7 separate regions of the Homo sapiens genome follow, and regions 2, 3, 4, 5, 6 and 7 are each reported to be linked to region 1. Evidence: microRNA targets listed by miRTarBase, many of them from high-throughput screens and not tested one by one. Region 1 holds a microRNA gene; each other region holds the end of a gene's coding sequence. Distances are from middle to middle.

The links. The annotated mature microRNA hsa-miR-3666 reads CAGUGCAAGUGUAGAUGCCGA and lies in region 1 at 2,242-2,262, shown strand. An mRNA with a match to its seed (bases 2 to 7 or 8) in the 3' UTR can be bound and repressed. Matches are read on the target gene's strand: a 7mer-m8 pairs with bases 2 to 8, a 7mer-A1 pairs with bases 2 to 7 and ends in A, and an 8mer does both.
Region 2: miRTarBase lists ENPP4 as a target of hsa-miR-3666. Seed matches in the 3' UTR shown: 7mer-m8 at 1,938-1,944.
Region 3: miRTarBase lists ZNF529 as a target of hsa-miR-3666. Seed matches in the 3' UTR shown: 7mer-A1 at 2,716-2,722.
Region 4: miRTarBase lists TSPAN3 as a target of hsa-miR-3666. Seed matches in the 3' UTR shown: 7mer-A1 at 1,961-1,967.
Region 5: the mRNA of FBXO28 is a reported target of hsa-miR-3666. Seed matches in the 3' UTR shown: 7mer-m8 at 3,607-3,613, 7mer-m8 at 3,110-3,116, 7mer-m8 at 3,070-3,076 and 8mer at 1,072-1,079.
Region 6: miRTarBase lists ZNF12 as a target of hsa-miR-3666. Seed matches in the 3' UTR shown: 7mer-m8 at 1,798-1,804 and 7mer-m8 at 1,995-2,001.
Region 7: the mRNA of MAPRE3 is a reported target of hsa-miR-3666. Seed matches in the 3' UTR shown: 7mer-m8 at 708-714.

Annotation. Positions count from the first base shown.
Region 1 is chr7:114,651,132-114,655,829 of GRCh38, forward strand. It overlaps MIR3666 (microRNA 3666), which reads left to right and starts at 2,214; the gene lies at 2,214-2,324. FOXP2 (forkhead box P2) reads left to right here. Exons shown (of 17, transcript NM_014491.4): 9 at 1,072-1,159; 10 at 2,795-2,878. RefSeq lists an enhancer at 3,923-4,698.
Region 2 is chr6:46,142,597-46,147,294 of GRCh38, forward strand. ENPP4 (ectonucleotide pyrophosphatase/phosphodiesterase 4) reads left to right here. Exons shown (of 4, transcript NM_014936.5): 4 at 680-4,092. The coding sequence ends at 1,044. Among named protein-coding and RNA genes, the nearest start is that of ENPP4, 15 kb to the left of the region's middle.
Region 3 is chr19:36,543,377-36,548,074 of GRCh38, forward strand. It overlaps ZNF529 (zinc finger protein 529), which reads right to left. Exons shown (of 5, transcript NM_020951.5): 5 at 237-4,698. The coding sequence ends at 3,490. Among named protein-coding and RNA genes, the nearest start is that of ZNF260, 17 kb to the left of the region's middle.
Region 4 is chr15:77,044,240-77,048,937 of GRCh38, forward strand. It overlaps TSPAN3 (tetraspanin 3), which reads right to left. Exons shown (of 7, transcript NM_005724.6): 7 at 1-2,688. The coding sequence ends at 2,596. Among named protein-coding and RNA genes, the nearest start is that of TSPAN3, 25 kb to the right of the region's middle. RefSeq lists an enhancer at 1-98.
Region 5 is chr1:224,157,366-224,162,063 of GRCh38, reverse strand. It overlaps FBXO28 (F-box protein 28), which reads right to left. Exons shown (of 5, transcript NM_015176.4): 5 at 17-4,698. The coding sequence ends at 4,318. Among named protein-coding and RNA genes, the nearest start is that of DEGS1, 24 kb to the left of the region's middle. RefSeq lists a silencer at 1,423-1,717 and an enhancer at 1,423-1,717.
Region 6 is chr7:6,687,255-6,691,952 of GRCh38, reverse strand. It overlaps ZNF12 (zinc finger protein 12), which reads left to right. Exons shown (of 5, transcript NM_016265.4): 5 at 1-3,520. The coding sequence ends at 1,105. Among named protein-coding and RNA genes, the nearest start is that of ZNF12, 17 kb to the left of the region's middle.
Region 7 is chr2:27,026,015-27,029,402 of GRCh38, forward strand. MAPRE3 (microtubule associated protein RP/EB family member 3) reads left to right here. Exons shown (of 7, transcript NM_012326.4): 6 at 1-18; 7 at 266-1,205. The coding sequence ends at 334. Among named protein-coding and RNA genes, the nearest start is that of TMEM214, 5.3 kb to the right of the region's middle.

The sequences.
Region 1 (4,698 bases):
GGGCTATTATAAACTTTTTAGACTATTATATCATTCTAAATGATACTTGAGCCCACTTGGGTAAATATATAAATTCTTATTTAATTTTGTGAATTTCTTTTCAATATGCCATTTCACTTATATGCAATGATGAGAACATCTCTGAAATTGTTGCCTTACTTTGCCCATTGGTGAAATAGATACACTAAAGGATATTGAATTACTTGAAGATTACTTTCTTTAATTTTGGGAAGCATCAAAGACATTATGTATTACAAATTACAGAGTATATATTATTAAATGTTTTCATGTTCATTGGAGATGCTGCTTTACTAAATTACTTTTGGTGTATTAACATACCACTCATTAAAGAGATCTCTTTAAACATCGTATAGAAATAATAATGGTAGACTAATGCATATTCAAGGTTAGAGTGAGATCATTTGGAATGATTTATTTTTCACCATTTTAAAAATAAGATTAGGACAAATGTCTCCTAGTTAGAACACTGGACATGAAATGTCAATCTTGTTATTCTAATGATCAAAATCTTCAATGAAGTTCTTTATTACTAACAGCAAATCATCATTCTTCATAAATATTGATTTTCCACGGGAGATAATTTGCCATCTTTACCTAATTCATACCACATCCCAATGAAATAAAACATTGCTCACTAAAATACATCATAGAAACAACAAACTGTTCTAACAATGAAATAGAAAATTGCCTTTGTTCTCTTCAGAATTGCTTTTGGTTCATAGATTTGTAAGCTGTTCTTTTTAAAAAAATGGCATAAATAATATGACTTCTACTATAACTCTGTAAATGGTCTGGGGAAATATTTTTTGTAATAACAGGTAAGCTTAGAGACAGTGACATTTTCTGCCATTTGAAGAGTCTCTTTACATTACATAAATAATTTTCACACAACACGTAAGCAGCTTTAACTTTTATCTGTATGGTTTCAAGGCTTTCTGTTTTCCCAGTGCACAGAAACATCTGACTTCAGTGTAGTGCTTTTTAAGTGTAGCCTATGCCACTAAGATCGACATCACTTTACATTCTGTTTTGTGTCTTCTGTTTGTTTAGGCACCTTAACAATGAACACGCATTGGATGACCGAAGCACTGCTCAGTGTCGAGTGCAAATGCAGGTGGTGCAACAGTTAGAAATACAGGTTTGTTAAATGCTCACTTAATGGACTCTTCTTAGATTTCTGGTGTGTTACATTGAGTACTGAGCAGATTCTGGGTCTTTCAGCCTGCATTTTACTGTCTTAGCCATTCAATACTAATGGAGATACATGATATTTTAGATTGTTTTAAACAGTGGCAATTATTGATAACCCAGGAAGGATTGCTGTAGTTTAATGTACTTATCACTTATATTTTTATAACTTTTAGACCACATCATATGAATTTGAATATCCCAAAGTAGTCAGATCTAAGTTTTTCCCAATGCAGGTTAGACCAAACTCCCAATTAGATATGATTTTATTACAGAGAGAGTTTTTACATGAGCTAACCTTGATTTTTTTCCATGAGATTTTATATTGTGGCAAATGACCAGTCTTTACAATATCATGCCTGTAATATAACTAACACCCTGAAAGATAACCTTTTCTTTTCTTTTTCTAGTGTAATTTTAATTAAAGAACTTGCAAAAAAATCTTTATACTTTTCTTTAGCTAGATTAAAGGCAGATAATTTATATCACAGATGATAATACACACATGTTGTATCAAATGCGACTGTTTTAAGTTAAAAAAAATTCTATTAATGTTGAAACAGAATTTGGCCAGAAGTAAATAGAATCCATAGAACTAATCAGAAAGCAATTATGTCACCCAAAGTCTGACTCTTGTTATGTTTTACTAAGCCTTTAAGGCTTTCTCTAACATTTCATCTTAAAGATGATCTTTTCTCAATGAAACTAATACTTTGTTTCATTTAAAGATACGATTTTTCTTCATATTTTATTACATCTTGTTTCAAATTCGTGTCATTGCTTTTTTCAGAGAGCTTACTAAAAATATTTTGTTTTGACTTGTAAAATAATCAAGAACACAAAAAGCACCATCACTGTTAAAGTTTAAAAAGCTTTTTATAAACCTGTTTACCATTTATAAAAGGTAGACTAAAACATAAGAGTTCAGCTGATGATACAGTCTTCGGTGTGACCAATTACGCCTATTTTTTTTTTTTCCTTCTGCTGTGTCTGACTGATGGAAAAGTAAGGTCCGTCAGTTGTAATGAGACCCAGTGCAAGTGTAGATGCCGACTCCGTGGCAGAGTTCAGCGTTTCACACTGCCTGGTCTCTGTCACTCTATTGAATTAGATTGATGATGGCAGATTGCAGGGGGCACTAACTGGACCTCAGTGGGAATGCATGAAGTGTGTAGACAATCCTGGCAGGCACTTTGCTTTGAGAACCCTTCACCCCTTCACAGCTGTTGGCACTAGTCCATTGCTAACAGTGTCCACAGGACTTTAAAGAGACACCATGGGCCTTCTAATTTATGGTTTCAGTAACTTGTTACTGTCGAGGCAACTGTGACCTCAATTCTCTTATTGACAAAAAGATGAAGTGTTATTTGTTTTCTCTGACCTTTTAACATAAGAAAAGCTATAAAAGTTTTTCCCCCTCCATAGCTAAAGTTGCATTTCCTCCCAGATAAGTTCCTCCTGACGCAGACTTTTACATGCAGGAATCATTATTCTGAGGCAAGCTCAATGATAAGATGTATCACTGCAATAAAATAGCTGTATCAGTCATTTCTAAAACGCTTCTGATCTCACTCTTTCTTAACAGCTTTCTAAAGAACGCGAACGTCTTCAAGCAATGATGACCCACTTGCACATGCGACCCTCAGAGCCCAAACCATCTCCCAAACCTGTAAGTGCATATTGCTTTATAAACAGTAAATAGCTCTACCAATGTAACAGACTAAGAAAATGAACAATTTAGTGACAGTTAGAAAACAATGAGTGTGATGAAAAATACGGCAATAAAATGAAAGTAAAATGTAATCGCTTGTCAAATTGTATGTTTCTTTTAAAGTAATGCTATCTTTTACAAAATCTATCCAATCTACACCATGGGTGACACTAAACAAAGTACACCTATCAGTGCACAAATCACTGCCTTGGGGCTGAAGCCAGAGAGAATTTCTTTCTGTGATAGGTTTACAGATATTAAAAGGAAACCCTCTTTGAGCAACCTGAAAAGTAGTAACGTACAAATCACAAATAGAAATGTATGTGGTGTGCTGAAGAAGGCAGATCAATCATAAGATACATATAAATAGATTTTTATCAAATATTTTGTCATAAAGGTCATGGTATTTTTATAGCCAATTTTGTCCTATTTCTTTGGTTATTTCAGTTAAGATGTATTTCACATATTGATATGTTTTATTGTACATTATACATAATGTTAATTTAGAGAGCTTATCACAAAAAGAAGTGGGTGATTATAGAAAATTAAGACTAGTTTCCCTCAAAAATATATGAGATTTAAGCTCAACCTAATAATGTAGTCAGATACACAGACTGTTGAAAAGAATATACTTTATCTCATTCAGCTGATGTTTGCACAGAAACTTAGAGTAATCAACTGGGTAACTCTAGTTTAATGAAAGTTTGTGGGATACTTTTTAATAAGGCCCCTGTATAGCCTGATGATTAATGATTGCCAGTCTTGCCTCTCCCTCTATTTCTTTAGGTAAAAAACGAACATTTGGCTTTGTAGTTGGGGAGGAGACAGAAGACGACTATATTGTCTAATTTTCTCGTAATGTCTCGATATTTCTTATCAATTAATATCATTCAAAATTTACTTTTTTGGTAGAGATTATATTTAAACTCTGCTAAGCTATTTCTGCTTTTCCTTTGTACTGTATTTAAAGGTAGAGTACTGTAAAAACATTTTTATAGGAAGAAAAAAGACATGTATCTTTTTGAATCTGACATACTACTTTTTAAACTCTAAAATGTCTGAGTTTTTAATTAAAAAATAAACTTTTGAGGATATTTTTGATCATGTATTTATGACTATCTTTTCAATAAGATTTTTTCCCTCATTGCTTCTATAGTATAATGTAGATAATCACAAGACAGAATAATTGTCTCATAAATCCATCAGGAATCTGCAGCTTGTTCTTTTCCAATTAATTATTCAATCAGTAAATTTTTTAAAACTCCAGCAGCATGGTTACATCTACACTAATAAAGAATTTTCAGCCTATAATCCAAAACAGAACCTGAATGAATAATGTAATTGAAGTATTACATTACATAAACCACACATGAAAGAATTGCTAATTGCGTTTGATGGTGGGCAATTAATACAGAATCTTAGATGAGCGATTTAAAATGAAACCACAGTTTAAAGTTCCCTTTGGAACTAGCGATATCTGAAGTGAGGAACTGCACTATTGGCCTCAGATCGGTTTGAAAGAAGAGTGGTCAATACTCACAACCCTCAAAAAAACCCTAAAATTTATACACTGTACAAAAGAAGCTTCAAAATTGATATGATAGTAGAGATTTATGGTCTCATGTGCAGTGGCTCAGTTGAGACGGCCCACACATTTGATAAATATTAATAGCATGAATTTATTACCAAGGAGAAATGAGCTCTGTTGGTTCATCACTGCACCCTTAACAGCTATCAGTACATGAACACAAGGTGCAACCGCACTGTCTATTATATGA
Region 2 (4,698 bases), not on the chromosome of region 1:
AACAAATATCAGTATACTCATCACCCAGTCACCCGTACTTAATATGAAAGTGGGAGCTTATTAAATACAACGGGTGTACGTTAAATGGCAACATTTGTTAAAATAAAGCTAAAAATTGGGAATTTATTATTGGAGTTGTATTAGGGACTATCATATGCTTTTCTTTAAGTCTAACTTTTACTGGGATAGAGTCACCAGATTAGACAACACATTCAACGCAAGATCCCTCCTGTAACAATTGAGATAGGTTAGGCTGCAGATTTTCTTTTTCTCCATTTGTTGGCCTTACTCACTTCTGTTCTTCCCAGTTACACAGAACCCTCAGCCTGACCACTGTCTTTATAACTGGTACTGCTTGCAGTGAGCTTTTGCAAACAGTGCTGAGATTGACAAGTGAAGTAATTGGTACTCGGGCTGAAAGATAAGTACATCAGGTTGACAAGTGGTGGTAAAGTCTGAGGGTATGACCAGTTGGGAAAAGGGGCATATGTGTGTGTTTGTGTGTGTATGTGAGAGAGAGAGAGAGAGAGGGAAATATGGAACATAGCTGAGTTGAAGAAATAGAAATTTTTATTTCTAGTCCCTTTCTGAAAGAATTGAATGTTTATATACTAGAAGCAAGTTATTTTGTCCTAAAAAGTCTGATCTTATTGACTGATGTTGTTTTGTTCTTTTTCAGTAGGTGACCATGGTTATGATAATTCTTTGCCTAGTATGCATCCATTTCTAGCTGCCCACGGACCTGCATTTCACAAAGGCTACAAGCATAGCACAATTAACATTGTGGATATTTATCCAATGATGTGCCACATCCTGGGATTAAAACCACATCCCAATAATGGGACCTTTGGTCATACTAAGTGCTTGTTAGTTGACCAGTGGTGCATTAATCTCCCAGAAGCCATCGCGATTGTTATCGGTTCACTCTTGGTGTTAACCATGCTAACATGCCTCATAATAATCATGCAGAATAGACTTTCTGTACCTCGTCCATTTTCTCGACTTCAGCTACAAGAAGATGATGATGATCCTTTAATTGGGTGACATGTGCTAGGGCTTATACAAAGTGTCTTTGATTAATCACAAAACTAAGAATACATCCAAAGAATAGTGTTGTAACTATGAAAAAGAATACTTTGAAAGACAAAGAACTTAGACTAAGCATGTTAAAATTATTACTTTGTTTTCCTTGTGTTTTGTTTCGGTGCATTTGCTAATAAGATAACGCTGACCATAGTAAAATTGTTAGTAAATCATTAGGTAACATCTTGTGGTAGGAAATCATTAGGTAACATCAATCCTAACTAGAAATACTAAAAATGGCTTTTGAGAAAAATACTTCCTCTGCTTGTATTTTGCGATGAAGATGTGATACATCTTTAAATGAAAATATACCAAAATTTAGTAGGCATGTTTTTCTAATAAATTTATATATTTGTAAAGAAAACAACAGAAATCTTTATGCAATTTGTGAATTTTGTATATTAGGGAGGAAAAGCTTCCTATATTTTTATATTTACCTTTAATTAGTTTGTATCTCAAGTACCCTCTTGAGGTAGGAAATGCTCTGTGATGGTAAATAAAATTGGAGCAGACAGAAAAGATATAGCAAATGAAGAAATATTTTAAGGAAACCTATTTGAAAAAAAAAGCAAAGACCATTTGATAAAAGCCTGAGTTGTCACCATTATGTCTTAAGCTGTTAGTCTTAAAGATTATTGTTAAAAAATTCAGAAGAAAAGAGAGACAAGTGCTCTTCTCTCTATCTATGCTTAATGCCTTTATGTAAGTTACTTAGTTGTTTGCGTGTGCCTGTGCAAGTGTGTTTGTGTGTGGTTGTGTGGACATTATGTGATTTACTATATAAGGAGGTCAGAGATGGACTGTGGCCAGGCTTCCACATTCCTGAAGCACACAGATCTCAGGAAAGGTTATTTTTGCACTTCATATTTGTTTACTTTCTCCTAACTCACAAGTTAAAATCATAACTTAATTTCATTAACTTTTATCATTTAACTCTCTCATGTTTGTTGTAACCTGAGGTATCCAAATGCTACAGAAAAATTTATGACCCAAATACAAATCTCAATTTGACTGGGACAGAATGAGGAATGGAGATTTTTGTATTTATCTTTGGGACTTTATGCCTTACTTTTTAGGCTATAGAATAGTTAAGAAATTTTAAACAAAATTTAGTATCTTTTGGTCTTTCACACCATTCATATGTTAAGTGGCAGAATAGCCTTAGTGCTACCTCCACTTTTTTCTCCAGTATTTGCATCACAGAAATAATCCCTCTGTTTAACATGTTTGTTCAGAGCCAAGGGTTTATTGTGAAGAACTGTCATCCTGCCTTTGCTAGCTGGTACCTTCTAGTAATCAAAATTAATATGAAGAAACTAGGTTGTGACAGACTAGATTATATTTAGTAGGGGAAAAATTGGGCTCAAGAACCATTCATCAGTACGTGAGACAAGCAGTTAATAGTATGATCTTTAAAGTTTTGACAATATAAAATAAACTTGGTAACTGTTTTACAAATATAAAAGTATAATAAATATGCAGCCCAGTTAAATATTGATTATCTGTGATGGTAAAGAACAACAGTGGTGCCAGTCATCAAACATACAGTGCGTCCTATTGAGTCACTGCTAATTTCTTGAGCCTGGTATTTGCTGCCTATTGTATTTGTGGTTGTTGAGAGGCATTTTCAAACCCTGTATAAATAATCCATGCTGTTGGTCATAAGTTAACTGTATTAAGAACAGTAAAATAAATAAAAACCAATAGTACTAATTTTGCTTTAAAAAAATTTCTAATTTTTTTCACATAAAACAATTATCCTAAAGGTTAATAGTTGATCGAAACAGAATAATAGAAAAATTCTACTTTAATTTCCATTAAAAAGCAAATAGCATTGACACATTTAAAGCTTTTCATTTAAAGTAGTGGATGTTTTTGAAGTATCTAAAATAGTAGCAGAATATTTTATACTTGGTCCTTGCAATGGTGTGAGTTTTAATGATTGCATTATCGTGATTGGTGGTTATGAGTTTCAGAAATCTATACTTGGCATCCAACTCATGAGTGGATTTTATATAGGATGGAACAGGAAGGTATGTCCTGTCAGTATCTTAACCCTTTCAACAAGACATTTACCTATTTGTCTTTCCTTACGTTCTCAAAATATTAACTCGAATTGTAAATTAAGCAAAAATTTAAAAAGTATATGTTGATGGGACAAGAAGAATAGTATTTATTTAATAAAACATATATTATATTGAACTATGTGTTAATTCATTTGTATCTTTTAAAAAATTATCACTGTTAAAGCCATTGACTCCTTTAGTACACTGAGAAAAATCTTATAGTAAAACTAGCCTTTCACATTAAGGTTTTGGTGTGTATTTTGTTAAATAACTAACATGCTGCTCTATTTTCTGGGTGTAGAAAGTATTTGGCTCTAGGAAACATTTACTTGTTTGTGAAAACAATACCCCAAGGTAATAGGAAAAGTTTGAGTTAAGTGTTTTTAATTCAGTCAGTGAATTCAGAATAAGTACATTCATGTATAACATAGGGACAGTTCTGCTGCTGTTATTTATATGCAATTCTTCTGGTAAATAGCAATAGAATAAAACATATTTCAATGTTTGTGTATAGGTTTTATATTATTATTCCACTAGGAATGGCATAAGAATTTATAGATAAATTCTTGTAACATTAAAGGATTAAAATGTTTTTACATTGTTTTTGGGTGTCTCCTTCTTGTGCCCATATCTGATAAGCTTTATGGATTATTGCATTTAATTCCTTTTATTTGGAGGGTTTTACTTCCTTGTTAACATATAAAGTTATAAATGAAGGACAAGGAGGAGATGGAAAATGTGTATTTATTGTTAATTCTTAAAATAGTGTGTAAATAAAATAACATCAGTGTGCTTTAAAGAAATGTGTATGTAGTGCCTTAATTTAAATTAAAATATTTTTGACTGTTACTTGAGTTCAGAATTAATGACTTTGTTCATGATTTTTAAAATGTGTGTGAATAAAATCTACCAAAAAATTCTTACTGTAATTATTAAATATAAAGTTCAGTGTCACTGGTGATTTTTACATTTGTTACCTTCTTGCAAAATATACTTACTGTGCTAGATGTTGACATGACTTAGTAATATTATAGAAGCCCACATAGGTGTTTATTAGGATTTTTTAACTCTTTAACAAAAAGTTTAAAACAGTGTGTAAGTATACAATCCAGCATAAGAACATCATTGGAAAGAAAGCCAAGATAAGTTTTATAGAACCTCCAGAGCTATGATTTATTGGCTTATGGTAGAAGAGAAGAGGTTTGAAAAAAACCGATTATAAAATAGTGGGGATGGTAGGGGAAGCATTATAATGTTTAAACTTTGTACATAGCCATAGGCATTTAATGACTTGTCCAATTGAATATAGATTCAAGAATTCTCCTATTAGAGCAGTGATTAATTCATTTCCTATTTTTGTATTAAAAGAACTCTGCTAAGAATTGTAGGAAAACAAAAGAATAAATGGAACATTTTTTACTCTGAAAGAGAATTATTTCAAAAGTGGTAAAACTTTATTTATACCAACAAATTACCTATGTGTACTCATGGGTTAACTCTTGCTGCTGAGAGCCTTGTATCTAGAATCATTTTCCAGACCTTGTGCTTC
Region 3 (4,698 bases), not on the chromosome of region 1:
TAAAATGGAAGCTTTCTCTCCAGTGGTTCTATTTTTTTTTTTTGTCCTCCCCAGAATCATTTTTACATCCATATTTCTAGCATCTACCCTCAGCATTCTTCTAGCCTATTTGCCCACCACCCAGTTCCAAAGCTTGGACTTGCACATTTTTAGTTTTTTGTTATAGCAGCACCCCACTTCTCAGTACCAACAACTGTCTTAGTTTGCTTAGGGTGTTGTAAGAAAATGCCATAGACTGTGAGGCTTAAATACAGATATTTATTTTCTCACTGTTCTAATTAAAATAGGGATTAGCAGGTTTAATTCCTGGTAAGGGCTCTCTTGGCTTCTCCTTGTGTCCTCATGTGGACTTTCCTTTGTGTGTGAGCATAGGAAGAGACGTCTCTCCTTCCTCTTCTCATAAGATCACCATTTGTATCAAATTAGAATCACATTCTTATGTCCTCATTGCCCTATGTCCAAATACAATCACATTGCAGGTTAAGGGGTGAATTCTGGCAAGTTGGAGTTGGGGTGGGGGGTGGCGCAGGGGTTATATAACTCCAGAAATCTCAGTCACAGACTCTTTACCTGTCCCTAACATACATATATTAGTTGCCATTAAATTGAATTCCTTCAAGGACATATAAAATTTAATGGTGCAGGACAGCAGAAAACAGGATGAGACTGCAATATCCTATCCTATTGAATATGAGAATAAAGCTCCTATGCAGGCTTAGAGAAAAGTCAGAAAGAATAAAGGGGCAAATGAAAATGGAAAGAATGGTGAAGTTTTATGTTTTTGAGTAAAAATAGTAAAAACCAAACAGTAATACCACCAATAATAATTATATTATGGTTTCGAGTAAGTGTGAAATGCCATAAGTTCATTACGAAGTTAAGTGAAAAATGTTAATATGATAAAAATATAGCTGTAACTACAAACAAGGAAAACATAATAAGGACACATTTTATTCATTAATTTATTATTTGTTAATGACTTCAAAAAGTAAAAGCCAAGACACAAGGATATTTTGTTTCTCTCACTAATTTTAATGTCTGTATACAAGGTTTAGATATTTAGTTTTAATTTGTTTAAGCTGGAAGGAAAAAAACACACACAAAGAAATATAGGACAAGTTCTCCTGGAGAACTATACCCAAAAGAGGAACATTAGCACTGATGGTAACTCAGGATAAAAAGGGAGAATGAGATCCAAGAGTAAATTAGCTGTGTTGTTACATAAATAGAATTTAGTTAGAAATAGAGCTACTACTCTATTTCAAAGATATGAAATAGCAAATATCCTGACAAAAAGGTTAACATACTCTTGTTCTTACTGTGTAGGACATGAAACAACAACCAATTACATATCTTTTAAAACTACTTGAATAAGCAATACTTACATAAAACATAGCTCAATATATCAGATGAGAAAATGGCTTAATACTGGTAATCATTCACACCGTTATAGAGTACATAAATTCTGGGAAAGACATCAGTTTCAAAAATTAAAATGTAATGAATGACAGTGACATAAATTTATCTGAAAATAATAGTAAAATTTTCTTATAAAAATCAAATAACCGGACAGGCGTGGTGGCTCATGCCTGTAATCCCAGCACTTTGGGAGGCCGAGGCAGGGGGATCACAAGGTCAGGAAATCGAGACTGTCTTGGCCAACGTGGTGAAACTCCATATCTACTAAAATACAATTAGCTGGGCATGGTGGCGCATGCCTGTAATCCCAGCTACTTGGCAGGCTGAGGCAGGGGAATCGCTTGAACCTGGGAGGTGGAGGTTGCAGTGATCTGAGATGACACCACTGCACTCCGGCCTGGTGACAGAGCAAGGCTCTATCTCAAAATAAATAAATAAATCCAATAACCAGGCTGGGTGCGGTGGCTCATGCCTGTAATCCCAGCACTTTGGGAGGCTGAGGCGGGTGGATCACCTGAGGTCGGGAGTTTGAGACCAGACTGACCAACACGGAGATATCCCGTCTCTACTAAAAATATAAAATTAGCCGGTCATGGTGGCGCATGCCTGTAATCCCAGCTAATCAGGAGGCTGAGCAGGAGAATAGCCTGAACCTGGGAGGCAGAGGTTGAGGTGAGCCAAGACTGCGCCACTGCACTCCAGCCTAGGCAACAAGAGCAAAACTCTGTCTAAAAAAAAAGAAAAAAAATCCAATAACCAGTGGCTCGTGATCTCATTGACTGCATAACCAAGTCAGCAGTCCTAAGAGAGAGATGATTTTGGAGTTAAATGAGATTAGTTAAACCAAAGAAGGTCTGCTGATTGTTGAAATGCCCAAACCTAGTAAGTCAACTCTGAGAGGGAATAAAAAGAAAAATAATGATAATAGATTAAAAAAACAATTGAAGCCATGTTAATATATAGTTGTAAATTCTCTTAATGTAAGTTCAGTGGTCATTTTTTCTCCCCTTTTAAAGGTGTTTGACAAATTTTAGAGTGATACTTTAAGAGAATGATAAATTTTAAGAGACTTACTGGGTGAGTAGTTTTATCAAATATTTAAAAGAGTTCTCTTCATTTGGATCCTGGTTGGTATAGCCTGCAGGTAAAAAGACTGCTTAAAGGAACTGGTTATATTCCAATATAACACACATACACACTATATATATATAGTGCCCAGTATATAGTGTATATACTATATATACATATATTGTGTGTGTGTGTGTGTATATATATATATATATATAGTGTGTTATGTAGTGCATGTGTGGGCATATATAGTATACATCACACACATATACATCACACACTATATACACACATATAGTATATGTGATATGTATAGTATACATCACACATACACTATATACACTATATGTGTATATACACTATATGTATATAGTGTGTGTGTGTGTGTGTGTGTGTTATGGTGGAATATAACCAGTTCCTATGTATGTGTTTTTTTGGGGGGAATATGTTGTATCAAAATAAAGTAGAAATTTAAAGAGAAGTCAACAATTGGATGAAAATGGAAAGGAGATCACACTTCTATCATTTAAAACAAAACAAAACAACATTACACAAAATGATGAGCTGTAAGACTGTAAAAATACATTGTATCTGACTAGGAGTGCTAACTCTGTGGAGGAAAATAAGTAAGTATAGATATCACAAGCAAAGAATTACAATGCAGAAAAGATATTGAAGTAATATTACAATTAAAAAACTGAATAGTCAAAAGAGCAATAATACAAACATCAAAAGCTATTGTAAACAAAACATGCCAGGATGAGAAACTCATGAAAAAAACTTTTTAACATAAAAAGGAGAAATATTTGGCAACATCTAACAAAGCTATAAGTATATATCAGCTATGACTAAGCAATTCTACGTCTACATACAGAATGACCATGAAGTCTAAAAACAGACTTTAAGAGAGGGAGATACTGAATTGCCTTGATTACCTATTAAATCCATCCACAGTATTTTCCTGTGAAAATCAGAAATAAAAAACCACTTTATACATTTATTTCAGTCAAATGATTTCTCACCAGTGTAAATTTTCGGTTGGCAAGTAAGATGCCCAACAACACTAAAGGAATTCCCACACTCCTTACATTCATAGGGTTTATCATCAGTATGAATGCGCTGATGTTTGGTAAAGGATGAACTATGTCTAAAGGCCTTCCCACATGCCTTGCATTCATAGGGTTTTTCTCCAGTATGAATTCTCTGATGTTCTGTAAGGGCTGAACTATGTCTAAAGGCCTTCCCACATACCTTACATTCATAAGGTTTCTCACCACTATGAATTCTTTGATGTTGAATAAGGGCTGACGTAAGTCTAAAGAACTTTCCACACTCCTTACATTCATAAGGTTTTTGACCACTGTGAATTCTTTCATGTCGAGTAAGTTCACTACCTACTCCAAATGCTTTCTCACATTCTTTACATTTATAGGGTTTTTCACCAGTATGAATCCTCTGATGTCTAGTCAGGGATGAACTATTTCTAAAGACCTTTCCACATGCTTTGCATTCATAGGGTTTCTTACCAGTATGAATTCTCTGATGACGAGCAAGTTCTCTACATACTCCAAAAGCCTTCCCACATTCCTTACATGCATAAGGTTTCTCACCAGTGTGAATTCTCTGATGTTCAATGAGCTGTGAACTAATTCTAAAAACCTTCTCACAGTGCATACATTTGTAGGGTTTCTCACCAGTATGAATTCTCTGATGTTCGGTAAGCTGTGAATGAAATCTGAAGTCCTTGCCACATTCCATACATTTGTAAGTTTTCTCATCAGTATGGATTTTCTGATGTCGAGTAAGTTGTGCATGCACTCTAAAGGATTTCCCACAGAATGAGCATTCAAAGTGTTTCTCACCATCATGAACTCTTTGAAGTGGAGTAACTTTTCCAACTCTTTCAAAGGTCCTTCTGTATTCCTTACATTTATAGAACTTCTCATTATGAATTTTCTGGTATACATTAAAGTCTTTATAAAAACTACATGTATTCCCATATTCCATATATTTACAAGGTTTCACACCAGTATGAATATTCAGTTGTAACATACTGGAGTTATCTATCCCAAAGGTTTTCCAACATTGATTACATTCATAGTTTTTTCCACCAGTATGTATTTTCTGATATTCATCAAACTCTAAGTCACAACTGAAGACCTTCTCATATTCCTTGTATTCATAGGGCTTCTCACTGTCATGAGTTCTCCG
Region 4 (4,698 bases), not on the chromosome of region 1:
AAACACCAGCCTAGTGGGTGAGCTCACTCACTAAATTTCAGACATGACGAGCAGTGCTTTTGCTCTCTGAAGAACAAGCACTGGGTAATGCCAACACCTAGCCTCAGCTACACGGGGGAAGGGCAGAAACAAGATGTTGAATTTGCATGGCCCTGGCCAACACAGACAACATCCCCTTCTAGTGGTTCCCAGGCAAGAGAAAAAGGCATTTCCAGGACAACTGTGCCAGGAATTAAACACAAGTTAAAACTGGCAGGAGCTGGAATGGTTTCCCAGACCTCAGAGCTACCTCCCCACCTCCATCTTTTTGGTCTCACTGGTAATATGGCCAGTCTGGGTCCAGCTGGCAGAGCACACGGGAGGAGGCTGCTCTCTCACCAGGCAAACTGAGGACTGAGTACAGGAAGGGTGTGGAGAATTATCCTCTTGGGCAAGTTGAAGAACAAGGCTACTGCTTGGCATATTTCCCAAAGCCATTTCCCACTCTAGAGGCCCTGTTCTGTCCTGTAGAAAGAGTGGAGAACAACCAACATCACAGTCCAAATATTGCTCACCTCAGGGCCAGCCTGTGACAGGGTACCCACAGGATGGTTCATATTGAAAACTGGGGGGACCATGCTCGGGGGAGGTGGTGGTAGTGAAAGGTCACAAACATTCTTGCCCACTGTGCAACAGGCAGGGGCAAGAGGTGGGATGGGTCAGTAGTCACATGATAAATCCCCCGGGGCCTCTGAAATCACATTCTGGTAACTTCCACTTTGTGAAAAGGAGTTAGTTTTTACTCCTCTCCTTTCCCGTGTCTTCTCCATTTTCAGGTGGGACAGATCTGCATGATATTTGGGCATCTCAAAACTGACGAGCCCAAAACTGACCATGAGTCACACCCCCAGATGTGTTCTCTAACTACTCCCTAGCTCTGTGACTTTGTTTCCCCAGTTGACTGAGCCAGAAACCTGGGACTCATCCTAGATGAGTCTTCTCTTCTCCCTTCTCTGTCCCACGTCCAATCAATGATCGAATTCCACCACTGTCCTGCCTCCAAACAGCCAGAATCCACCGCTCACCACCGCCCCCAACAGTGCCCTGCTGCCCACTGCTAAGCTCTCTCAACTGCTATGCCAGCCTAACTGAAGCCCAGTCACACCAATTCATCCTGGCTTCAGCACGGCCGGCTTGCATCACCACCTTCTTCTCAGTTCACCTTCCAAATCAAACCTCCAAAGAGCTGCTTCCACCTACAAGTCAGCTCTCACCTCCACAGGATGTTCCGTAAGACACTAGAGGGCCTGGGCTTTCCTGCTTCTCCAACTTCTTTCCCCAGCCTTGTATTTTAAGCTCCCTGCACACACAATTTTGTTTCACACTCTTGTGTACCATCTTTCAACAAAGCCTATCCAGCCTCCAAGCTTGGGCATCTCCTCCAGGAAGTCACCCCTGACCTCTCCGGAACTCCCCTTTGGACTCCCATTCTATTACTACAACCACTGCAGTGTGAAAATTATCTTCTCCTATGTATGTCTCCTATACTAGGACTCCGAACTCCTTGAAGACAAGGACAGTATCGCCACTGTATCCCCAGTGCATTGCACAAAGTAGAGCTCTATATTTCTAGGATATACTGGACTGAAAGCATCTGTGGTTTTTTGAATATCAAGCCCTTTAGAATCTGGCAACAGCTATAACGAAAACACACGTAAACCATGATGAACTATAGACAGCACCAACAAAGAAAACATGATACTGCTGCTCTGGAACTGAAATATCCCCCAAATAATGAAAAATAATATGTTGGGGGCTGATACAGAGTTTATTGAATTAGATTTTTCTATTTACAACTGAGATCACATCTACATACTATTTTGCTAGTCTACATGGGTACATTATTTCCAACAAGCTTAAGACTTACCATGAATGGGCTCATTCATACAAAAACACACTCACACTAATTCTTTTAAAACAGTAGTGCATACATTATACTCCTCCTATAAAGCCAACTTTGATTAAAAACCACTAGTTTCAAAGCTCAGTCTCTGATTTTGAAGATGAACCAAGATATACGCCATATGATCCTACAATCTATTTTAGTCATTTTGTACAGCTGCTATCTTATTGGACTACAGTAAATATTTTTTAAAAGGACACCAATGAGGGGCACCATCTGGTGTTAACCTTAACCAGAAAGCTGGTTTCCTCCTCCTCCCCGCAAAAACCTTTGGCCAAGAGTTCTCCACTGTGAAGACTGAAAGGACCTGGTGACATTTCGGCATCAGTCCTGTTACCACTTGGAGGTAACAGAAGCAGGCTCGTGTCCTCCTTTAATTCTACCACACTACATGACTCGCAATTGGTTCTGAAATTAGAACGTTCACCATCGTACTTAAAATCTTAGGGGCATGAAGAGTCAGCTAGAACAAGGAAAAAGAAAGTCGCAGGTAGTAGGTAAGTAGGTGGGCACATGAAAAGCCAAGCTGCTCTGTCCAACACCAGTGTACATGTGCTTTAACTAAATGAACTCCAGAGGCCAACAGCAGCAGACCTGCTCAATTCACCTTCCAAATCAGAACAAGACCAAAAAGCTCAGGCTTGAGTTGTCAACTATGCATAGGTTCCGCCAGTGATGAGGAGCTCGTAAGCAGGATCTCTACTCCTTCTGCACAACACGATGCAAGCACACAGCATGCCCAGCAGCTGTTGAAAGAAAACAACAATGGGGAAAAAAGGCTGAAAACCCTCTCATGGCAGGTGTGTATTTCTTTGTTGGTAAAAGAGCTGTTTCAAAGTTCAATGACTTCAAATCATCAAAAAGGCAGTAACAACAGTGATAGAAGGAATTTCTTATGAGTACATTATTTTTTAAGGAACTAAGTCCTAAGCTTCAGCTTCCCTCCCAGGAACTCTTCGTAAAGCCAGCAGGGAATCAAGTCTCTCTTATTTGGCATCCCCACTACTAGTCTAGCGAGTGCTGTCCGAAAGAACTTTCTGCAGCGATGGAGACATACCACATATGCACTGTCATGTGGCCTCATGTGACTACTGAGCACCTGAAATATAGTTACTGCAACTGAGTTGCACTTTTAATTTTATTTAAATTAATTTAAATGTAGACACATGTGGCTAGTGGCTACCATTCTGGACAGCAAAGGCCTGGGGAGTAGAATGAGCAAGAATGTGTGTGTTTAATAGTGGTCTTTTCAGGTCTTTTGGTTTTTGGAAAACGAAATTCAGTATGTGAATAGCCCTATGGTAGAAAACAAATTCTGATGCCAAAAAAAATGTAGTTGGAAGGTTTTTTGTTTCCTTCACATTCACTATTTTTGAAATCCACGGTTCTGTGGTATTACATACATATTACTTTTGAAAGGTCACTCTTCCGTCATCATTTTATTTCAATAAGTCCTAAACCTTCTGTGGTAGCATATTGGAATAGTAATAAAGTCATGCCATGTTATTTTGGATAAGCAAAAGGATTAAGCTGGATTAAAGAGAAAATGATTCTAGAATTTTTGACCTACCTTCTCCCAAAATATAATTTTTTTGTGAGATAATTTGCTGTTCTAACTTCTCATTGATGAGGAAAAGCCTCAGTTATTTGATTTTAAAAGACAGGGTCCTCTGTACATTTGGGGGTCAATCTAATTTCCGCAAAATGTACCCAATCCATAAACAGACTCTCAAAGTTTGAAGTGGAAGATTAACCACTACTAAGACACACATACACATAAGGATGTCCTCAATCTGAATTCTCCATGGTATAAAGTCACCCACTCCAATTTCTACCCTCACATTAACCTATATTCTGCCCATTCGGGATATATATTTCCTGCTCAAATCCATCAGTTTCACTATTTCACCACTTGCACCATTTGCACCATTTCACCATTTGCAAAGCACCTTAAACACACTTAAGAGGTGAATATTATTTAAAGTTTACTAAACAATTTAAGTCAATTCTAGACCGATGAAGTACCTAATTCCTAGAGAAATACATTTCTGTTCTCTGTACATCAAAACATTGTTAGAACAGCTATAAACTCAAATGCAATTATGTTCTCAGGCAATGTTAAATTGAGCAATAAAAATGCTAAGCTCAGAAATGACTGGTTTGCTAAGGGAAAAAAAATCTCTCTTCCCACCCCCACCTCCCCACACTCCTTTCAATTGGTTAACTTCTATTAGAGAAGCCAGCATTCTCAAAATGAGGTCTGAAATAAGTATTTCTTTCCCAATTTGTTTATTTCAATGAAATCAACTTGTATTGATTTTAAAACAAATAAACTTGATAAAATTCTACTCATGCTTGGGAATCAGTCTGCTTAAGAATATTAAGCTCTACATAATAATTTCTTATCCTCACCATTAACTATTACAGGCTCATTTCCAAAGGCCTGCTATACTGAAATTCCATTGATTTTTGAAACATTCCAACAACATACTTGGAAACATTACACAAATATTTTATCTCCAACATTATTTCTTGCAATGAAATACTCTCTTGCAATATTCAAGGCATGAGAATTAAACTTCACTTAGCCCAAATATAACACCCAGCAACTGCAAAAATTGAAAAAAATGACTAGTGGTGATTAAAAAAACTGACTGGCAAAGTAAAATGTTCTATGATATACCATGTTGCTGGTGGTATGGGGAAATAGGCATTCTTATACAAAAATAAGAACTTTTGCACATTAGAAACACTCT
Region 5 (4,698 bases), not on the chromosome of region 1:
CAAAGAAAACAAGTAGCACTGGTAACAACACATTTATTTACGTACCCTGTTGTGTGACCGGGAGGTGTTTTTCACTTTCCAATAATTGATTCGGTTATAACAATTAAAATTCCAGAAGGTAAACTAGTAATTTATTGTTGCTCATAAGCATAGGTAAACAGACATGGTACCACAATAAAGGAATCTTAAACACTTCTAACCTTTTGGAATAGGTTTGAATATGGACCAATATACTTTGCCAATGGACCTAATAGATTACCAATATACTTCTAAATGTCATGGTTCTCTTCAGACACAACAGAAGAAATCTGGATCTAATTTTTAAACTTCAGAAATTTAACCAAGATGCTTAGGAAGATGCAAAAGGACAGCAGTACTTAAGCCTGTCATATTTATCACCAATATAACTGTATTGCTATTAAAAGTAAAATCATGGTAGGGAGCAGCCAACTAATTGCTAGTCTCAGTTCATAGATTTAGTATTTTTTGAAAATAATTCACCTCAGATGGCAGGCTATACAAGTTTAAAGTAGTTTTAACTTAACCTTTTGTGTACTAGTGAAAGCAATTCAGATAGATCCCAAGTCAAAGAACCAAACAGTGTATCAAGTTGGGTTTCATATCAGAAATCAGCCATTTCCAAACAACTGCATCGTATAGGACGTTTTCTTTCAGACTGCCTTTTATTCCTGGCTTCAAATCTTACTCACAGTATATGTTTTTAGAGAGTTTGGTAAGTGTAACAAATGGGTACTCATTGCTAGAGCAGGATATAAGAATGTGCTGATCACCAAGTATGAGATTTACATTACATTAAATTAAAATTATATAATGTTGGAAATAGACAATATAGGGAGTTCCCGGATCCTAGAAAATATTATGGCTAAGGAAACAGAGAACTCAAGAAATGAATCTACCTCCAAGAAACTAATTCAGTATAGTAAAATAGAATTAAGTGCCCTGTCTCAGGAAAAAGTTTATTAAGAATAAGGAACAAGTGGGACATCATACATCGTTTCTTTGGAGATTAAAGTGCAGGCTATGAAATGGCATATAAAATAATGCATAAAATAGTGCAATCTTAAGGTGCCATTATTTTTATTACACATAGCCTAGTTTTATGTCCATTTTCTCTCAAAAATCCAGCTGTAGTGACACCTTTTAGCTTATTAATTTAGGCATTACTTATACTGTTTTACCCACCTTTGGGGCTACATAGAATATTTTAACATTTTTAACACGTAGAATAATTGCGCATATATCTTGAAACTACTAAATAGAGATTAAGGCAAGCCCCTGTAAAGTTCAGTACTCCAAAAAAAGTGTTTTGCAAAAAAATTGCTTCCCAAATCAGTGGCTTTTGACCTGATGGTACCCCAATAGTCTTTAAAACTATTTTAAAGTATAATGACTCTCAATACATTTGCGTTTGCTCCATTATTTCCAGGCTCTGTACAGGAGTTTGAAAAACAACAGGTTCTATAACCTCAGAATCTGTGAAAACCAGTTAAGCCAAGTGCATGTGGGAGATAAGCAGAGGATCCGGCTGGGGTGGGGTAAGGTCAGCCGTTTCTGTCTCTTAGGCATGCCTTTTCACATTGCTATCCATGTGTGCAGCGCTGTACCAGAATACATTTCTATGTGGGAAGGACCCATTAACATGGAGACGTCTCCTCTGAAAAACAGCCAAGGAAGATAACGGGAATACTTTAAGAAATGTTGCACTAAGACAACGCAATATTAACAACACGCAGTATTTAAATACCTGACTTAAAATGCAGGGCAGAATGGTTCTCTCAGGAGGTTAATTTACAGTTTTCTTGTAACATATGTCAGTTCTAGCTGATCATAATAATCTGCGGTTTGTTGAACCTTAAATACCATTATGCTATCCATAGGTAAGCATAATGGCTATCAAATAACTGTCCTAACAAGTGGTGAAGGCAATATCCTAACATGTTTTAGCTAAATAGCCTAAGATTTAAGATTTGAACAACCGAACTGTAGTGCTTTATTCTCCTACTGCATGGAACATTCATGCATTAACAAGTACAATGAATTAGCTTTATGAATAGATGATTATAAGTGTATGCAATAGAAATTTGGATTTTGTAATAGAAAATTTACCTTGTAACAGTGTGACTACTTATTATGAAAGCCCTATACACATGTTAACTAATGGAAGACTACATAGATGTTTAGGCTATCTAGATGTAGTTTAAAAAGAAATTCAGGAAATTTTTAATAGTTCATGAATGACCATTAAAGAAACAGTCTGGGGCTGTATCCCTTTGATGCATACGGATCACACTCTGTAAATCTGTAAACACATGCTTTGATACGTAAAAAAAAAAGTCTTCCTATGACCGGAAAAGCAGACTAGTAGAGGCCCCGGGTATTCCACCAGGCCTCCTCTAAAGATATGCTAATATGGCTAAATACTATGATTATAAAAATGAGAAGTGCTGAGAAAACGAGTTCCAGACGGGGACTTTTATGGATGACCTTGGCTGACAAATGTTTTTTGGAAATTGTTTTATTTTAAAATTACCTTCCCAACAAACCATGAAACACTTGGATGTTACTTTATGGTTTTTCATTGAAAACATACTACATTGTAAATGGAATTTCAAAGTCAGACATAGAATTGATCAAAATCTAAGGACAATATTATGTAAGGACAATATTAAAAATGGATAGAAAAAGCTTCATTTGGTGAGGTTAATCTAAAGGATGCATAACCATGTCACGGTGGACGGATAAAAAAGGTGATAACCTTGTGCTTTTATTCAACTAAGGTACTTACCAAAACCTTAGGTTTTATACAGGTGTTAAGCTCCCACCTGGAAAGGGACAGTTTTCTATATTACACCTAAATTTACTTTAAATAACTGAAGCCCAAGGAAACAGTTGTTTAAAAGAACTTAACAGTCAAATAGCTACATAATTTAGTAAATTAAAATACAACTAAGACAGTGATAATTGAATGTCTCAAAACTATACAACTGGGGAAAATAACCACTGTACACAATTTGGAGGTTGTTAAAGCGACCACTCAGGAGGTTGAACAGTGCAAGACATGCTTTTCCAGTTACAAGCTCAAAATAGGAGTGCAAACAAAATTAAAGCTTTTGTTTAAAGTTGTAGGGTAAGGAAAGCTTGAAACTAATATTAAAAAGCTTCCCTCAAGGTCATCCTCCAGAAATGAAATAATCAAAATGCTTTTTCATGGTACAATTTTCCTCAATGAACTTTGCTGCAATGGCAAAACTGCATCCCGCAAGTCGAGTCCCCTACTCACTCACCACATCTGATCAATGATCACATGGTGGTGAGCAAAGAGGAGTATTAGCTCCCAGAGGTCCAATATTGATAGAAAGAGCCTTGAAATTTGGGGTTCTGCCTTAGCCAGTGTACCTGAACCCTACAGAGAGCAGATAAAGCAATGGGCTTTAATAGTCTCTTGTTCCTATAAAACTGGAGGACAAATGGATGAACAATTCCCCCTCTAGAGGCAAGCTGTTGCGGTGGAAGATGTTAAGCGTTTAAATAAACTAAGACGCCGCTCTAAAAAGTGGAGAAGTATAGAGGTTCAAGATCAATACCAGTGCAAGAGCTTTTTAAGTGAGTTGACTAGGCAATGCATGCATCCATCCATGCAAATGTAGGACATGGCCCCCAAAGAGAACTGAAAACATGTATAACAGCTGGGTAAGTTCCTTGCCAGTAGTTTATAAAAATATATAGTCAATATTGTAGAGGCTCCTTCTACAGTCAATACTATGGAAGTCCATTTTAGTTACCCATTACTTCAATACCAAAAAGCATTAACTACTTTTCAGACATTCCAGACAAAGGTCACTTATAACAAAAAGATGACTTAAAAAAAAAAGAACCAAGATAGTGTCCATTTAAAAAGTAGGTCTTTTCTTTCAAGTGAACAGGACATTTTCTGTATTAAACTTAACTTCTAGTCTGTCAAGACTGGGTTTAAGATCCTTACGTATGTATGTGCATATATGCAGAAACAAATTAACTTACTTTCAACATTATCTGCACAGAAAAAAGTTAACTCCTCAAAACATGATAGAACAGGTCTGGTTAGTACAAATCTATTGCAAAGTAAAAAGATTCTGTGCATCAGTTCAATCAGGAGAAGCAGGAAAAGAATGTCCCAACCATAAGAGTTCAAGTTTAAGTTGTGTTCTGAAAGCCTAGAAGCTTAAGGGACACCATGTTGCTCACAGTATCCTGATATGCATAACTGCTTAAGCTACTAAGCTGTGTCTTCCTCTGGAACTAGAACCACATTCCAATTTACTTTCTATTCCGAAGACGTTTAGATTTCCTAAGAGAGTCTATGGCTTCCGTGGCCTTTTTTCGTTTCCGAGGAGACTCCTCATTCTGCCCGGACCCTGAGGAATTTCCTACAGCACTTTCCATTACTTCTCGTAGTTTGCGTTCTAGCTCTGCCAACCGTGCATTTTGTTCACCTATGATCTGGGTCTGCTCTAGCAGTTTCTGGTCCTGGTCTTGAAGCTGTTTTTGCTGTTCTTGCACTTTGGTGCGAAGCTCAGAAATTTCACGCCTGAGAACAGTCACGCCAGCACCATTTGTTTTAACCTGCTGCTGGAGTTTGGTAACCTCTTGTCTTGAAGGATTTTGCTTGGAGAAGAGCTGCATTGTTGTTAGGGCTGC
Region 6 (4,698 bases), 110 Mb from region 1:
TGGGAAGAACTTTTACCAGAAGTTACACCTCATTCAGCATCAGAGAACTCACTCAGGAGAGAAGCCCTATGAATGTAGTTATTGTGGAAAATCCTTTTGCCAGAAGACACACCTCACACAACATCAGAGAACACATTCAGGAGAGAGACCTTATGTTTGTCATGACTGTGGGAAAACCTTCTCGCAGAAGTCAGCACTTAATGACCATCAGAAAATTCACACAGGTGTGAAACTCTACAAGTGTAGTGAATGTGGGAAATGCTTCTGCCGCAAGTCTACTCTCACGACCCACCTGAGGACCCACACAGGAGAGAAACCGTATGAATGTAATGAGTGTGGAAAATTCTTCTCTCGGTTGTCATATCTCACTGTACATTATAGAACTCATTCAGGAGAGAAACCCTATGAATGTAATGAATGTGGAAAAACCTTCTACCTGAATTCAGCCCTCATGAGACATCAGAGAGTGCACACAGGAGAGAAACCTTACGAATGTAATGAATGTGGAAAGTTATTCTCCCAGTTGTCATACCTCACTATCCATCATAGAACTCATTCAGGAGTAAAACCCTATGAATGTAGTGAATGTGGGAAAACCTTCTACCAGAACTCAGCCCTTTGTAGACATCGGAGAATACACAAAGGAGAGAAGCCCTATGAATGCTATATATGTGGAAAATTCTTCTCTCAGATGTCATACCTCACTATACATCATAGAATTCATTCAGGAGAGAAGCCCTATGAATGTAGTGAATGTGGGAAAACCTTCTGCCAGAATTCAGCCCTTAATCGACATCAGAGAACACACACAGGAGAGAAAGCCTACGAATGTTATGAATGTGGGAAGTGCTTCTCTCAGATGTCCTATCTCACTATACATCATCGAATTCATTCAGGAGAGAAACCCTTTGAATGTAATGAGTGTGGAAAAGCCTTCTCTCGGATGTCATACCTCACTGTACATTATAGAACTCATTCAGGAGAGAAACCCTATGAGTGTACTGAATGTGGAAAAAAATTCTACCACAAATCAGCATTCAACAGCCATCAGAGAATTCATAGGAGAGGCAATATGAATGTAATAGATGTGGGAAGGCTTCTCTGAAGTCAGACCTCATTTTATATCAGAGAACCCTTTCAGTATAGTGAATCAGAAACTCCTGCCTGAAGTCAAACACCTTGTACATCAGAGAGTTCACACAGGTTAGTGTGGACATCCCCTTGTGTGTTGGACTCATAATCTGAAGACTCACAGAATGGAAACCATGATTATAACAAGACCACATGGTATAACAATACTAGACTATAGACAAGTAAAAATTTATAAATATTAAGAATGTATATACATGTCACCATGGATTGGAACTGTTTTGCATATCAGGGAAATCATAGCCAAGGGGAAATCTATCAGTATAAGGAATGTGGAAGACATAATCCTTTGGAAACTGTTAATACTAAAAGATATGTTTCTGATACAATAGCAAACTTGAAAAAAAAAAAAGAAATAGAAGATTCCTGCTGTGAATAAACATACTTCTTGTGTAAATAGAAACTGTAAAGTCATCAGGATAGCTAGTTAAGTCGGTAACCTTAAACTCATGTAAGCAGTTCCCAAAGAACATAGGACTTATGTTTGGGGAGAGGGTTGTTTTTATTACAGTACATTACAGGAATTGTATGTTCACTTCGAATCATGTTTGAAAAAACGTTGTATCCTTATTTTGTAATTCATATAGTAAGAGTATTCTAAACAGCACTACATTAATATCATTTGATAGGTATAAAGTATACTTTTTCTTGCACTCTTCTCTAGGATTTAATGCATTGATCATTCTTAATGAACAATATCAGCTCTAAAGGACCAATGCTTTTATAATGTTTTCAACTGTATCTGAGTCAGCCAGAGAGATAAATATCCATGTATAAAATAGATAGAAAACTTTGCTTGGTAATTTAAAATTAATAATGCCAGTTTTCCAAGAGTGAGAAAATCATTGCACTCTATACAGTTTTAAGATATACTTAAAATATTCCCATTTGTATCTATTTTTTTTTCTACTGTTTTTTATTTGGACACTTACATAACAGTGCAGAGCACAATGCTGTGTAACATAGGAATTCACTGTGTTTTCATTTGATGTCGTACTGGTTTTAAACCTTGTGCTCTACTCCTTCCTGTTAATGAATTAAGAACACATTCTAACAAGGGTCTGTGGCAGACATTGCCGAGTGACTTTCTAACATAGGAATTCACTGTGTTTTCATTTGATGTCGTACTGGTTTTAAACCTTGTGCTCTACTCCTTCCTGTTAATGAATTAAGAACACATTCTAACAAGGGTCTGTGGCAGACATTGCCGAGTGACTTTCTTAGTCACTCCCTTACTCTGCTGGCGGAGTTTGGTTATCCATTTATCCTCAAAAGGAAGTGAGATAAATCCTGATTAGTTTTAACCAGTGACACTCCCCTTCTCGTTGCCAGCAGTTGATTTACAGTGGTCACAGGGCCCAATTCTAGACATAAAACAAAGGATATACCTGACAGACTACTTCTGGAAAAGGTTTTCTCAAAGGCCCAAGGATTCAAGCAAAGGGAAGTGGAATCTTGTGGTGAACAGTACCTTGTCTGGATGTGGTGCCTGGTAACCATCTTTCAGCAATGGATTATAGTTTAATCATGGCCTGAGCAGAAATACTGAAAGACCCTGAGACCTGGATGATGTCTTTGAGCCACCAAACCAAGCAGCCTTGTAGCCACTCCTCCTTTGGACTGTTTCTTTTGTGAGAGACTAAACTTATTTTTAAGCCAGTTGATTTAGGATGCTCTATTACTAATAACTGAAGACATTCTAATTGGTACAGACTGAAACCTTTATAGGAGTTATGCAGTTCAGAAGTGGACTTTAGGTAAGTCATTTATTTTAAGCTGTTGATATAGAGATTTATTTTCTGTAAATTTTGACGTAAATAGTTTGAGCATTAGAAATCAACTTGAAACAATAAAATGTATGCTTCCTTGAACTGTCATATCGTTGACCTGCAAAATTCACCTTTGGAACGTGACACAATGTTAGGCATACCTCCTTTTTTCTAATACATGGAATACATTTTGTTGGAGGTAATTTATGTGATTCATATACCACTGCTACAGTGTTAGCTGACAACATATAGTATGAGGTAAGGATCTAATTCTGTTTCCTCTCACATGATTACTTGATAGCTAAGCATCTGATTGGTTTACTGCTTTACCACTGAGCTGAAATGCCGTGTTTTCCATTTATTAAAATCACACATGGCTCCTGTTTTTGTCACTCAGCACTTTTTCTCCATATTCTTCAAGACGATTGTGAGTATGGTACGTAACAGGAATTACATCTGGTAAGTTGTATAGTTTTGTGTAGGAACTCTATATTCATAGCATATTTGTGGAAATGATACCTATGGAGGTTTCTCACACTGGTGTGTCATTATACATTAATTGTACAATATGCATTTTCAGTAAAATATTTGAAAACTGTAAATGGCTTGGCATTTTCTTCTTATCCTATGGATTGCCTGCACATCAAAGGGTCTGGTACGTATATAAGTGGTCCTGAACTGCCTCTTCAGTAATGTAGTCAGTGTTCATAGTAACATGTTTATAGTTTAAAAGATGCCAATGTTTTCATAAATTAAGAGATTTTTTTGGCCCATCTTAAAATGAAGCCCACCAGGAAATACATTCTTAAAATTATATTGCTTTTTTCTTCCTATCACAGAGATAACTACATCAAAAATAAATTGATTTTCCCTTCATTGAATATAAAGTCTATGATTCCTGCCAAATTGATGCACTAGCATGGGCTGCTGGCTTGTTACAGTGCAAGCCCGGAGGTGCCACGGAAATAAGAGCAGTGTTTGGGTCCAGAGAACTAAGGATGTGAATGGGGCTCTTTTGCGGGAAAGGTAATGGCAGACAGAACAAATCTTAAAGAGTAGTTGAATTGTAATCTTTTTCCCTATACATTTATGGTCCTCTGTAGTATGCCCAGGAGATGATAGCCCACCATGGTGCCTTCATAAGATAGGAGAGCAGCTCGGTCCTATGGGAGCACTTAGGTTCCATTAGAGCATCCTCTCCTCACTTCAAAAGCCAGTCATTGCTACGACTGGAGACATTCATTTTTTTGTTTGTTCGTTTTGTTTTTTGTTTGTTTTTGAGACGGACAGAGCCTTGCTCTGTCACCAGACTGGAGTGCAGTGGCACGATCTCGGCTCACTGCAAACTCTGCCTTCCGGGTTCAAGCGATTCTCCTGCCTCAGCCTCCCAAGTAGCTGGGACTACAGGTGCCAGCCACCACTCCCAGCTAATTTTTTGTATTTTTAGTAGAGATGGGGTTTCACCATGTTGGCCCGGATGGCCTCGATCTCCTGACCTTGTGATCTGCCTGCCTCGGCCTCCCAAAGTGCTGGGATCACAGGCATGAGCGACCACACCCAGTCGACTGGAGACATCTTAAGGAGGCAGTATTTAGGGTGATCATGTCAAGTGGTATCCTGAGGGTCAGTCAAGCGGGGCGGGGGGGGGTCTCATTCCAGGCATTGGTGATAGGGGATTTTTTTCTGTAACACACTCCTCCACTTAAACCCACCCAACAGGAAGAAACAGGAGGATTAGGCCTTCTCCCTGCTATTCATTCTCAGCCAAGATTTACAGTAT
Region 7 (3,388 bases), not on the chromosome of region 1:
ATCCTCTATGCCACAGAGGTGAGCACTCCCAGGCCCATTGGGCCCTCCCCAGTCTGGCCTGGCCCTAAGACCAGAAGCGCGATAGGGCCAGAAGGGACCGTGGAGAACATTTACTGATGAGAGAGAGGTGAAGTCACTAGCCCAGGGTCACCCATTAGCAGGGCTCCTGGACTCCTGACCCCTTGCTCTTCAGCTACTTACAGAACCTGAGAAGCCCTGCCTGGCCTGCCTGGCCCACCACTTTCCTCTCTCTCCCACCCTCCAGGAAGGATTCGCACCCCCTGAGGACGATGAGATTGAAGAGCATCAACAAGAAGACCAGGACGAGTACTGAGGGCGGCCGCAGCCCTGGCTGACTGCACAGCTTCCCCGTGCCTCCCTCCCTGCTCCACTCCCACATTATAGTCCTTTCCTAACACGGTCGGCCGGGTGCTTTGTGTCAGTGCTGCAGCACTGGGGAGCCAGGCGAGGGGGGCTTGGGGGCATGGGGCCGGAAAGCAGGCAGAAGCCCGTCCTGGGTGGTGCTGGCCCAGTTGGTGGGACCCCTGTCCACACCCACCCTATTTATTTCCGTTGTCTCTCTGCTGTGTCGCCCAACACTTCCCAGGGTGCTGCTGCCACCCGCCCCAGCCAGCCACCTGCTCCTGACAGCCAGCAGCTGTGTATTTGACAAAGTCATTGGTATATTTTTACTTACTGGATTCTCCTTGCACTTTACCTGTTCTTTTCCAGAGCTGACAGCACGGGCTCCGGCGCAGTGTGCCTGGCTTGGCTTCCCTTCCCCATGGCTGGGGGCTGGGGTAGGACTCACCCATTCTAATTTATTTTGTCTTTTGGCTTCTCAGTAGCTAAGGGGAAGGCTGATGTCAGGAGAGGGAGAGGGGGCTGAGGAGGTAGTGCTGTAGGCCCAGGGGGTCAGGGAAAGGGAGGGGGGCATGTGAGGGATGGAAATGACCTCCTGGCACCAGGCTCACCCACCCAAGGCCCCCTGCCCCAGCACTGAATCCCAGCGCTGCCCTGAGGCCCCCAGCCACTCCCTCCAGCAGCCTGGTTCACCACACAAACTCTGCCTGGACCCCATTGTCTGTCTGCTTCCCACCTGCCCTCCCCACCCCCTGCCCCTCGGGCACCAGCCTGCATATGTGTTCACTTTTATTTAAATAAACTTGTGTGGTAAAAGTACATGCCATGTGTCCCTCAACTGAGCCACAGTCCAGGTCCAGTGCTTTCCACCTCCCATGCACCGCTCTCTCCGGAGGTGATAGCGGCAGCACAGCCTCACTGTCACCCTCCCACAGGCCTGGAAACCACCACCAGCTCTGGGCTCAGAGCCCAGCTCCAGCCTAGCCCCAATGCCCAACACTGGTGGTAGGGCTCTGAGGGCAGGTAGGGGCCCCAACCCCCCGTCACTGAGGAGGAACTAGGTCTGGGCCCGTGGCCATGACAAGGGACAGCCGGTGAAGCGGCTGTGGGGCACCGTGGTGGCCTGGCCAAGAGGTGCTTCGTTTCAGTCTCCTTTGGGTCAGGGGGACTGCATGTCATCCCCCACCTGTTGTCAAAGCTCATACAACTCATCATAGTGATTCAGCTGGGGACAAGGGCTCACGTGACAGAGAGAGCTGGGATGGCCACAAAGAGCAAGGAGTTCTGAGTGCTGAAGCCCGGGACAGCAACATCCAAGGGGTTCCTTCTGTAGAGCAGGCTCCAGTGGGAACAGGGAATCAGGAACCCTTCCACATCACCTGCACAGCCCCAGTCCTGGCATGTGCCTAACAAAAGGCCATACTAACCGATGTCCCAGAAGCCCAGCAGAGACCAAGAGTGCAGAAATGAATGTGAGAGCCTTGGGGTCATCTAGACCAGCCCCCGGTTTACTGATGAGGGGTCAGAGGCCCACGTGCATGACTCAATCACCGTGGCTGAAACCTGGACTAGAACTCACACTTCTTGACTTGAGGTTCAGGGCTCATCCCCAAAGACCACTGAGGTTCCCCCAGCTGCAGGACAGCGCTGGTTTCCTCACCACCCTGAGTATGGTCAACATGCAGATGGGGCCGTGTCTCTTCTGTGGCCCCACCCCATGGCCCCTTTTGAGACCACCACCATTTCTCTCATGACACCAGGTTCAAGCCTTAAATAAGCAATTCATATCTGTTTATTCCTCAATCACCTCCACCACCCCTTTTGACTCCCCCCCCCCATACATAGACACTTCTGCCTTATTCTATCTCTGTTCTCCTCCAGCAAGTTCCTTGCCTGCTTTTACTTATCGTGATGATTTTAATTCCCTTGCCTAATTTTTAAAGGCTTTTCCCCATGATTACAGGTAGATACCATGAAAGGATAGGCCAGGCCGAGACCTCACCCTGAAGGTAAAGTGGGTGTGGGAGGCAGAACAGTGCCTCCCCCAATGTCCACATCACAATCCCCAGAAGCTGTGAATATGTGGGTTACATGGCAAAAGGGAATTAAGCTGCCTGTGGGCCAGGTGCGGTGGCTCACGCCTGTAATCCCAGCACTTTTGGAGGCCAAAGCGGGAGGATCACTTGAGCCCAGGAGTTCAAGACTTCCCTGAGCAACATAGGGAAACACCATCTCTACAAAAAATAAAATTTGAAGGGCGTTGTGGCACGTGCCTGTAGTCCCAGCTACTCAGGAGGCTGAAGCAGAAGGATCACTTGAGCCCAGTTGTTGTTAAGGCTGCAGTGAGCCATGATTGCTCCACTGTACCCCAGCCTGGGCAACAGACTGAAACCCTGTCTCAAAAAAAAAAAAAAAAGAAAAAAAAGTTGCAGATGGAATTCAGGAAGTTAATCTGCTGACCTTAAAATAGGGAGAGTGTCCTGGTTTATCCAGGTGGGTCCAATGTCATCGCAAACGTTTATAAGAGTGGAAGCAGGAGGCAGAAAGGGTCAGAGTGGGCAGGGTGTGGTGGCTCATGTCTGTAATCCCACCATTTTGGGAGGCCAAGGCAGGAGGATCACTTGAGCGCAGGAGTTGGAGACTAGCCTGGACAACAGCGAGACCCCATCTTTACAAAAAATAGAAAAATTAGCCGAGCATGGTACTACATGCCTGTAGTCCCAGCTACTTGGGAGGCTGAGATGGAAGGATCATTTGAGCCCTGGAGGTCAAGGGTGCAGTGAGCCATAATCATGTCACTGCACTTCAGCCTGGGCAACAGAGCAAGATCCTGTCTCAGAAAAATAAAAGAAGAGGTCAAAGTGAAACAATGTGAGAGTGACTCACCCACTGTTGTTGGCTTTGAAGACAGAAGGGAGCCATGAACTCAGGAATGCAGGTGGCCTCTAGAAGCTGGGCAAGGCAAGGAAATGGATGCTCCCCCAAAGCCTCCAGAAAGGAACCCAGCCCTGCTGACACCTCGATT